2 linked regions of the Homo sapiens genome follow. The protein of the gene in region 2 purifies or fractionates together with the protein of the main gene of each other region. This does not show direct contact. Each region holds a gene or a part of one and is shown on either strand. Other genes may lie near its edges.

Region 1 (3,500 bases), on a different chromosome or scaffold from region 2:
GTAGGACCAGGGCTGGCTCACCTCTCCCAGCCTCCCCGAGTCCCTGGTAGCCCCGTGTGGCTGTGTGCCAACTCAGTCTGGCCTGCTGGGTGCCCCCCATCCCTACCCAGTTGACCCTCCCATGGGGGCCCTCCTGACCGGGCAGCCCATGCCCCCATCTCCCCACTGCCGGCCTCCATGCAGGTGCAGAAGGTCAGCCTCAACCCCGCCTGCCGGCCCCACCCGAGCTTCACTTCCTGTCTGGTGCCCCCTGCGGAGCCCCTCCCTGACACAGCCCAGCCTGCGGTGATGGAGACACCCGTGGGTGATGCAGACGCAAGCGTAAGTACCAGGGCCGCCCCCATCCTCCCTCAGCGACACTGCAGTGGCTGCCCTGAGTGTTCACCGGCTGAACGGCCTTTTTTTTTTTTTGAGACAGTGTCTCACTCTGTCACCCAAGCTAGAGTGCAGTGGCGCAACCTCGGCTCACTGCAACCTCCTCTTCCTAGGTTCAAGCGATTCTCCTGCCTCAGCCTCCCGAGTAGCTGGGATTACAGGCATGTGCCACCATGGCCGACTATATTTTAATTTATTTTTTGAGACAGAGTTTCGCTCTTATTGCCCAGGCTAGAGTACAATGGTGTGATCTCGGCTCACTGCAATCTCCGCCTCTTGGGTTCAAGTGATTCTCCTGCCTCAGCCTCCCGAGTAGGTGAGATTACAGGCACCCGCCACCATGCCTGGCTAATTTTTGTATTTTTAGTAGACATGGGGTTTCACCATGTTGGTCAGGCTGGTCTCGAACTCCTGACCTCAGGTGATCCACCCGCCTCGGCCTCCCAAAGTGCTGGGATTACAATCATGAGCCACTGCACCTGGCCTAATTTTTGTTTTTGTTTTTGTTTTTGAGATGAGTCTCGCCCTGTCGTCTAGGCTGGAGTGCAATGGTGCGATCTCGGCTCACTGCAACCTCCGCCTCCCAGTTTCAAGCAATTCTCCTGCCTGAGCCTCCTGAGTAGCTGGGATTACAGGCGTGCGCCACCACGCCTGGCTAATTTGTATCTTTAGTATCTTTAGTAGAGATGGGTTTTCACCATGTTGGCCAGGCTGGTCTTAAACTCCTAACCTCATGATCCACCTGCCTGGGCCTCCCAAAGTGCTGGGATTACAGGCGCGCACCACCACGCCTGGCTAATTGGTATCTTTAGTATCTTTAGTAGAGACGGGTTTTCACCATGTTGGCCAGGCTGGTCTTGAACTCCTAACCTCATGATCCACCCGCCTGGGCCTCCCAAAGTGCTGGGATTACAGGCGTGAGCCACCGCGCCTGGCCAATTTTTATATTTTTTTTAGTAGAGTCAGGCTTCACCATGTTGGCCATGCTGGCCTTGAACTCCTGACCTCGTGATCTGCCCTCCTCGGCCTCCCAAACTGCTGGGATTACAGCCTTGAGCCACCACGCCTGGCCCCAACCTTCTTTGTCAAGTGTAACAGAGACAGAGAAACACGTGGAGCATAAAGAAGGAACTTGCACAGTGCTTTCTAAATTGGGCAAACACTTAAAAAGCAAGAATTTTCATACAGATCTAGATTTCTGGCTTCTCTTAAAATACTGGCAGATCTAACCCACTGGGCACACCCTCCTGCAGGGCTGGGAGCCAGCAGCTGCCACTTGCTGTCCCCGCGGTCTGAAGCTCGGCTGCTTCCCTGTGTGTCTGCGTTTATGCCCGTGCCCCCCGCCGCTCCTGTCGCATGCCCACAGTGGGGGCTCCTCCAGTCCGCAGGGGGCCCAGAGTGGTGACCCTGGAGTCCGCTGGCACCCCCTCCTTTTGGCCAGTACACCTAGGAGCAGGCTGGCTGACCCCATGCCCCTCCCCAGGAGGGTTTCTCTTCCCCTCCCAGTTCGCTGACCTCGCCCTCCACGCCCTCCAGCCTGGGGCCCTCACTCTCCAGCACCAGTGGCATCGGGACCAGCCCCAGTTTGAGGTCGCTGCAGAGCCTGCTGGGTAAGGAGGCAGGACGGGGAGCTCACCCCTACCGCAGGAGCCCTGTCTGCCCCACTCCCCGTCATCCTCCTGTGTACCCTACTGCTGAGCACAGGCCTCATGCAGGGCACCCCCCTCACCCAGACTCACTGGCAGGGTCATTTGTCCTGGGGGCTGGGGTGTGGTGGCTGAGTCTCACCTGCAAAATAGGAGGGCGGCTGGGGCCACCAGCTTCTGAGCAGCCAAAGCCCTGGGCTCCACCAAGATTCCCCGAGCCACCATGGAACAGGGTATATCATTCCAGACATTATTCCTGGGCGAGTTGCATCCACTGGATTAGCAAAGGCCTGGGCCTAGGTCCATGCTGTACATCCACCTGGGGTGAGGGGAGTGGGCAGCCGGGACTCAAAGAGTGCAGGGCGGGCGGGGACGGCATCCTCACACGTGGTTCCATGTCCCTGCCACCTGCCAGGCCCCAGTTCCAAGTTCCGCCATGCTCAGGGCACTGTCCTGCACCGAGACAGCCACATCACCAACCTCAAGGGGCTCAACCTCACCACACCTGGTGAGAGTGACGGCTTCTGTGCCAACAAGCTGCGTGTGGCCGTGCCGCTGCTCAGCAGCGGGGGACAGGTGGCTGTGCTTGAGGTGAGGGCCCCACCCCACCAGGGCTGCCCCTCAGTTCCCTGCCTGTGGCAAAGACGCGGAGGGCCTTAGCTACCCACACAACACAGGGAGCACAAACCTTGTGTCAGGCTCCTGCCCGCCTGTCCTGTGATCCTCCCAGCCACCTGCCATGGGGCCTGCCACTTTTATCCCCATTTTACAGATGAGGGAGAAGAGGCACAGAGAGGTTTAGTGACCTGCCCGGGTCACACAGCTGTGTAAGTGGTGGAGCTGGGATCCGAAGCCCGGCCACCTGAGCCCTAAGCCGGAGCTTTTCCCGCCAGTTCACGCTGCTGCCCCCTCACTCTCTGGGGCCTTGTGGTTGGCACTTGGGGCTCAGAGCGCAAGGTGGTCAGGGCAGAGAGCTTGGGTCACCCAGCGGTGGGAGCCTCTGCTGCAGAGGGTGGGCTCCCAGACATGCTGCTTGCCCGCAGCCCCTGGGGACTGGCTTTTCTGCCTGGTACTGATGGGCCTCGGGGTGGGGGCACCTCCCACAGCTACGGAAGCCTGGCCGCCTGCCCGACACGGCACTGCCCACGCTGCAGAATGGGGCAGCTGTGACTGATCTGGCCTGGGACCCCTTTGACCCCCATCGCCTCGCTGTGGGTAAGGAGGCTGGGTGCCTGGGCTTGAGGGAGGGTCCTGGGTCCCGGATAGGGGCTGGGGAGCCCAGAGGTCTTGGGCTCAGCAATGATGAGCCCCTGTCTGTCCTCTGCAGCTGGTGAGGACGCCAGGATCCGACTGTGGCGGGTACCCGCAGAGGGCCTGGAAGAGGTGCTCACCACGCCAGAGACTGTGCTCACAGGTCAGGCAGGCTCAGGAATGGGGCTGGGGTGGCCAGTGTCTCCCAAGGGCTCCTGATCACCCCTG
Region 2 (3,500 bases):
TCATTAACTGGCATCCCATCTTCTCTAGATGGCGCAAAACAGTGATGTCACTATCACTTTGCACCCAAGGGGTTGGTACTCTGACTACCACCACTTGTGGGTAGGCAGTGATTAGCTCTCCATTGATCCGCAGACCCAAGTTTCCTTTCTCCATTGTCAGCACCACCTCATCCATCACCACAGCCCTAAAGTCCAGTTCCTCCTCACAACATTTGGCCTTTAATGCTCGTAAAATCTCTGTTTGAGGATAGTCTTCCCTGATGGGACAATCTATCAAAAACCACAACTTGGCAGCCACGTAACTACAGATCTTGATCAGCTTGTGCTTCCTTGCCTGGATTGTTTCCTCTTGGATGTAACATCTACCAGTTGATTATGGAAGATGAACAGCCAGATATAGAGGTCTGCAAGAGTCCTGAGCACAGGGGCTTCTGTCCCCGAGTTAGAGTGCACCACCCTCCTAGCAGGTGGAAGCAGCCCACGAATCCATAAACCCGGAAGCTCATCTAACATAAAACTTACCATCTTAACCATTTTGAAGTTCAGTAGTATTAAGTACATTCATATTGTTGTACAATATTTTTGTTTTTGGAGGAAGGTGTAATTGACTTTATTCTGTAGCAGAATTTGGGGATGAGAAATGTCATGTATGCAGCAGTAACTACAGGTAGTTTTTGTTTAGGTCATGAAATAATTGGCAGTTGTTTCACATGTACATTCAAATATGGTTGTTTTATCAAAAGTTTTTGAAAATTGAGACATATTTTACATATAGTGAAATGCACAGTGAAGTGTACAGTTTGCATTTTGATGATAAAGAGATTTACCCAAATATTTTCAAACCAAAAGATCATAGGATGTTGGAATGGGAAGTGACCATAGTGATCATCCAGCTTAATCTTGCTTTACAGATGAGGAAACCAGAAATTGATCCCGGAAGATTTTTTGGCTGAGATTTTTTTTTTCTTTTTTGAGACGGAGTCACGTTCTGTCGCCCAGGCTAGAGTACAGTGGCGCAATCTCGGCTCACTGCCACCTCTGCCTCTCGAGTTCAAGTGATTCTCCTGCCTCAGCCTCCCGAGTAGCTGGGATGACAGGTGTGCACCACCATGGCCAGCTAATTTTTGTATTTTTAGTAGAGATGTGGTTTCATCATGTTGGTCAGGCTGGTCTTGAACTCCTGACCTCAAGCGATCCACCTGCCTCAGCCTCCCAAAGTGCTGGGATGACAGGCATGAGCCACCGCGCCTGGCCTTGGCTGAGATTTTTAACCAACTTAGATGCCAGTTAGAATTAAAGGAGAGTCTTACATCTGGCTTCTTCATGCAGTGTTTATTTAAACTGTTTTCTATTACTTTACATCTAATTTTTCTTTCCATGGTTCTATCTCCGTGGGAGACACTGAAAACGATACTCTTGCAAGTGGTAGAGTTCGACGCTTACTGTGTTGGGCATGCTGGCCTTTCTTTAGCTCATAAGCGTGGGTTATGTAGAGAGCAGACCATCACCTGGCCACTTGGATTTCACTGGATACAATTTTTTGGGGGTAGTTTCTGTCTGTTTACTATTGGTAGCACTATTTCCTGGCATAAGAAAGTGAAGAAATAGGTGAAACCCTGTCTCTACTAAAAATACAAAAATTAGGCACCATCATGGTGATGGGTGCCTGTAATCCCAGCTGCTTGGGAGGCTGAGGCAGGAGAATCGCTTGAACCTGGGAGGTGGAGGTTGCAGTGAGCTGAGATCACGCCATTGCACTCTAGCCTGGGAGACAAGAGCAAAACTCCATCTCAAAAAAAAAAAAAAAAAGTGAAGAAACAGTATAATTTGAATTGTCAGCATGTTTCCACCACTCATTCTGGTGAAGGGTTGACTGCTTGTGGGTGTCAGTCACATAATTGACCTTTCATTTTTGTTGGGGCTGTGGGGCCTCGCCTTGGAGCAGCCTCGTGTGCATCTGCTGACTCGCAGAGTTGGGAGCGACTCCATTGGTAGGCTCATTGGTGGCTTTTGGTTGAGTTACAGTGGGTTACTGGTAGGTGATTGTGGGATCAACGACTTTGTAAGACTCATACTCATGGGTCCTTCCCAAAGCATAGGCGTCCTCAACTTTACTTTCCTTTTGGCCAGGAGGGACAGATGATTATTTCGTTGCCTGAGAGTTGCCTGCTCACCACGGACACAGTGATTCGAAGCTACTTAGGGGCATACATTACTAAGTAAGTGACCACACACTTGCTTACCTGGTGCAAGTGCTTCTCCTTAAGGTCTGTCAATGGCAAATATGTCACTTGAGACACAATTCATTAGAACCCAGTCCCTTGTAGAGCTGATAAATAACCTGAATGATGTGAAAAGTTTACTCCATTCTAGAAAGTTTGCCCTCCCTCCCTGCCTTCCTGCCTGCCTGCCTGCCTGCCTTCCTCCCTCCCTCCCTCCCTCCTTCCCTCCTTCCCTCCCTCCCTCCCTCTCTTCCTTCCTTCCTTCCTTGTCTCTCTCTCTCTCTTTCTCTCTCTCTTGCTTGAGATGGAGTCTCACCTGTTGCCAGGCTGGAGTGCAATGTCGTGATCTTGGCTTATTGCAACCACTGCCTCCCAGGTTCAAGTGATTCTCGTGCCTCAGCCTCCCAAGTAGCTGGGATTACAGGTGCCTGCCACCACGCCCAGCTAATTTTTTTTTTTTTTTTTTTTTTGTATTTTTAGTAGAGACAGGGTTTCACCATTTTGGCCAGGCTCGTCTTGAGCTCCTGACCTTGTGATCCACTCGCCTCAGCCTCCCAAAGTGCTGGGATTACAGGTGTGAGCCACCGTGCCCGGCCAGAAAGTTTGTTCTTAATTCACTGTAAATGGCATTTCTAAGGTTTTTAATAGGCTTCCTGGAGTGTGGGTATGATATCCCGATCCATCACTGACTAAGAAATAAAAATTAAATGGGATAATATATGTAAATCACAGCTGAGTGCCTTGGCTCATAGTAGCCTCTTCTCTTCCATCATAGTAGCTCTTGACAAATGTAAGTTACTCTCTCTTATTTCTACCGTTATTGTACTTCAGTTTTCCTTGAACTTTGAAGAGCTGTTAATTTTGTGAAAGAATTAGTTTTATTTAGGTATAGAAGAGAGGAGGCTGATGGGGAAGAACTGTTTTCTGGCACACGTTCTGCTGGGCCTTTGTTTTGGGGCATCTTTGAGGACAGAGTGAGAGCGACCCGCAGTGGAAGGGATTTCTAAATACAAGGGTTGAAAGAGTATACCGTTTTTTTCTTTCTTTTTTGAGACAAGGTCTTGCTGTGTTGCCTAGGCTGAAGTGCAGTGGCGTGATCTTGGCTCCCTGCAACCTCCACCTTCCGGGTTCAAGCAGTTCTCATGCCTCAGCCTCCCAAATAGCTGGGATTACAGGTGTGCGCCACCATGCCCTGCTAATTTTGTATTTTTAGTAGAGATGGGGTTTCTCCATGTTGGTCAGGCTGGTCTCAAACTCCTGGCCTCAAGTGATCCACCC

The links. The genes of interacting proteins can lie anywhere in the genome.
Region 1: the proteins of SETD4 (region 2) and CORO7 purify together in Homo sapiens (affinity purification with mass spectrometry; one large-scale study listed by BioGRID and IntAct). This does not show direct contact.

Annotation. Positions count from the first base shown.
Region 1 is NC_000016.10:4,361,097-4,364,596, reverse strand, and holds part of CORO7 (coronin-7), read left to right. Parts: intron 1-183; coding exon 184-321; intron 322-1,858; coding exon 1,859-1,985; intron 1,986-2,436; coding exon 2,437-2,612; intron 2,613-3,127; coding exon 3,128-3,236; intron 3,237-3,348; coding exon 3,349-3,435; intron 3,436-3,500. Other genes in the region: CORO7-PAM16 protein, read left to right, coding at 184-321, 1,859-1,985, 2,437-2,612, 3,128-3,236, 3,349-3,435. UniProt on the Homo sapiens protein: F-actin regulator involved in anterograde Golgi to endosome transport: upon ubiquitination via 'Lys-33'-linked ubiquitin chains by the BCR(KLHL20) E3 ubiquitin ligase complex, interacts with EPS15 and localizes to the trans-Golgi network, where it promotes actin polymerization, thereby facilitating post-Golgi trafficking.
Region 2 is NC_000021.9:36,047,027-36,050,526, reverse strand, and holds part of SETD4 (SET domain-containing protein 4), read left to right. Parts: intron 1-2,130; coding exon 2,131-2,219; intron 2,220-3,500. UniProt on the Homo sapiens protein: Protein-lysine N-methyltransferase that methylates both histones and non-histone proteins. Via its catalytic activity, regulates many processes, including cell proliferation, cell differentiation, inflammatory response and apoptosis.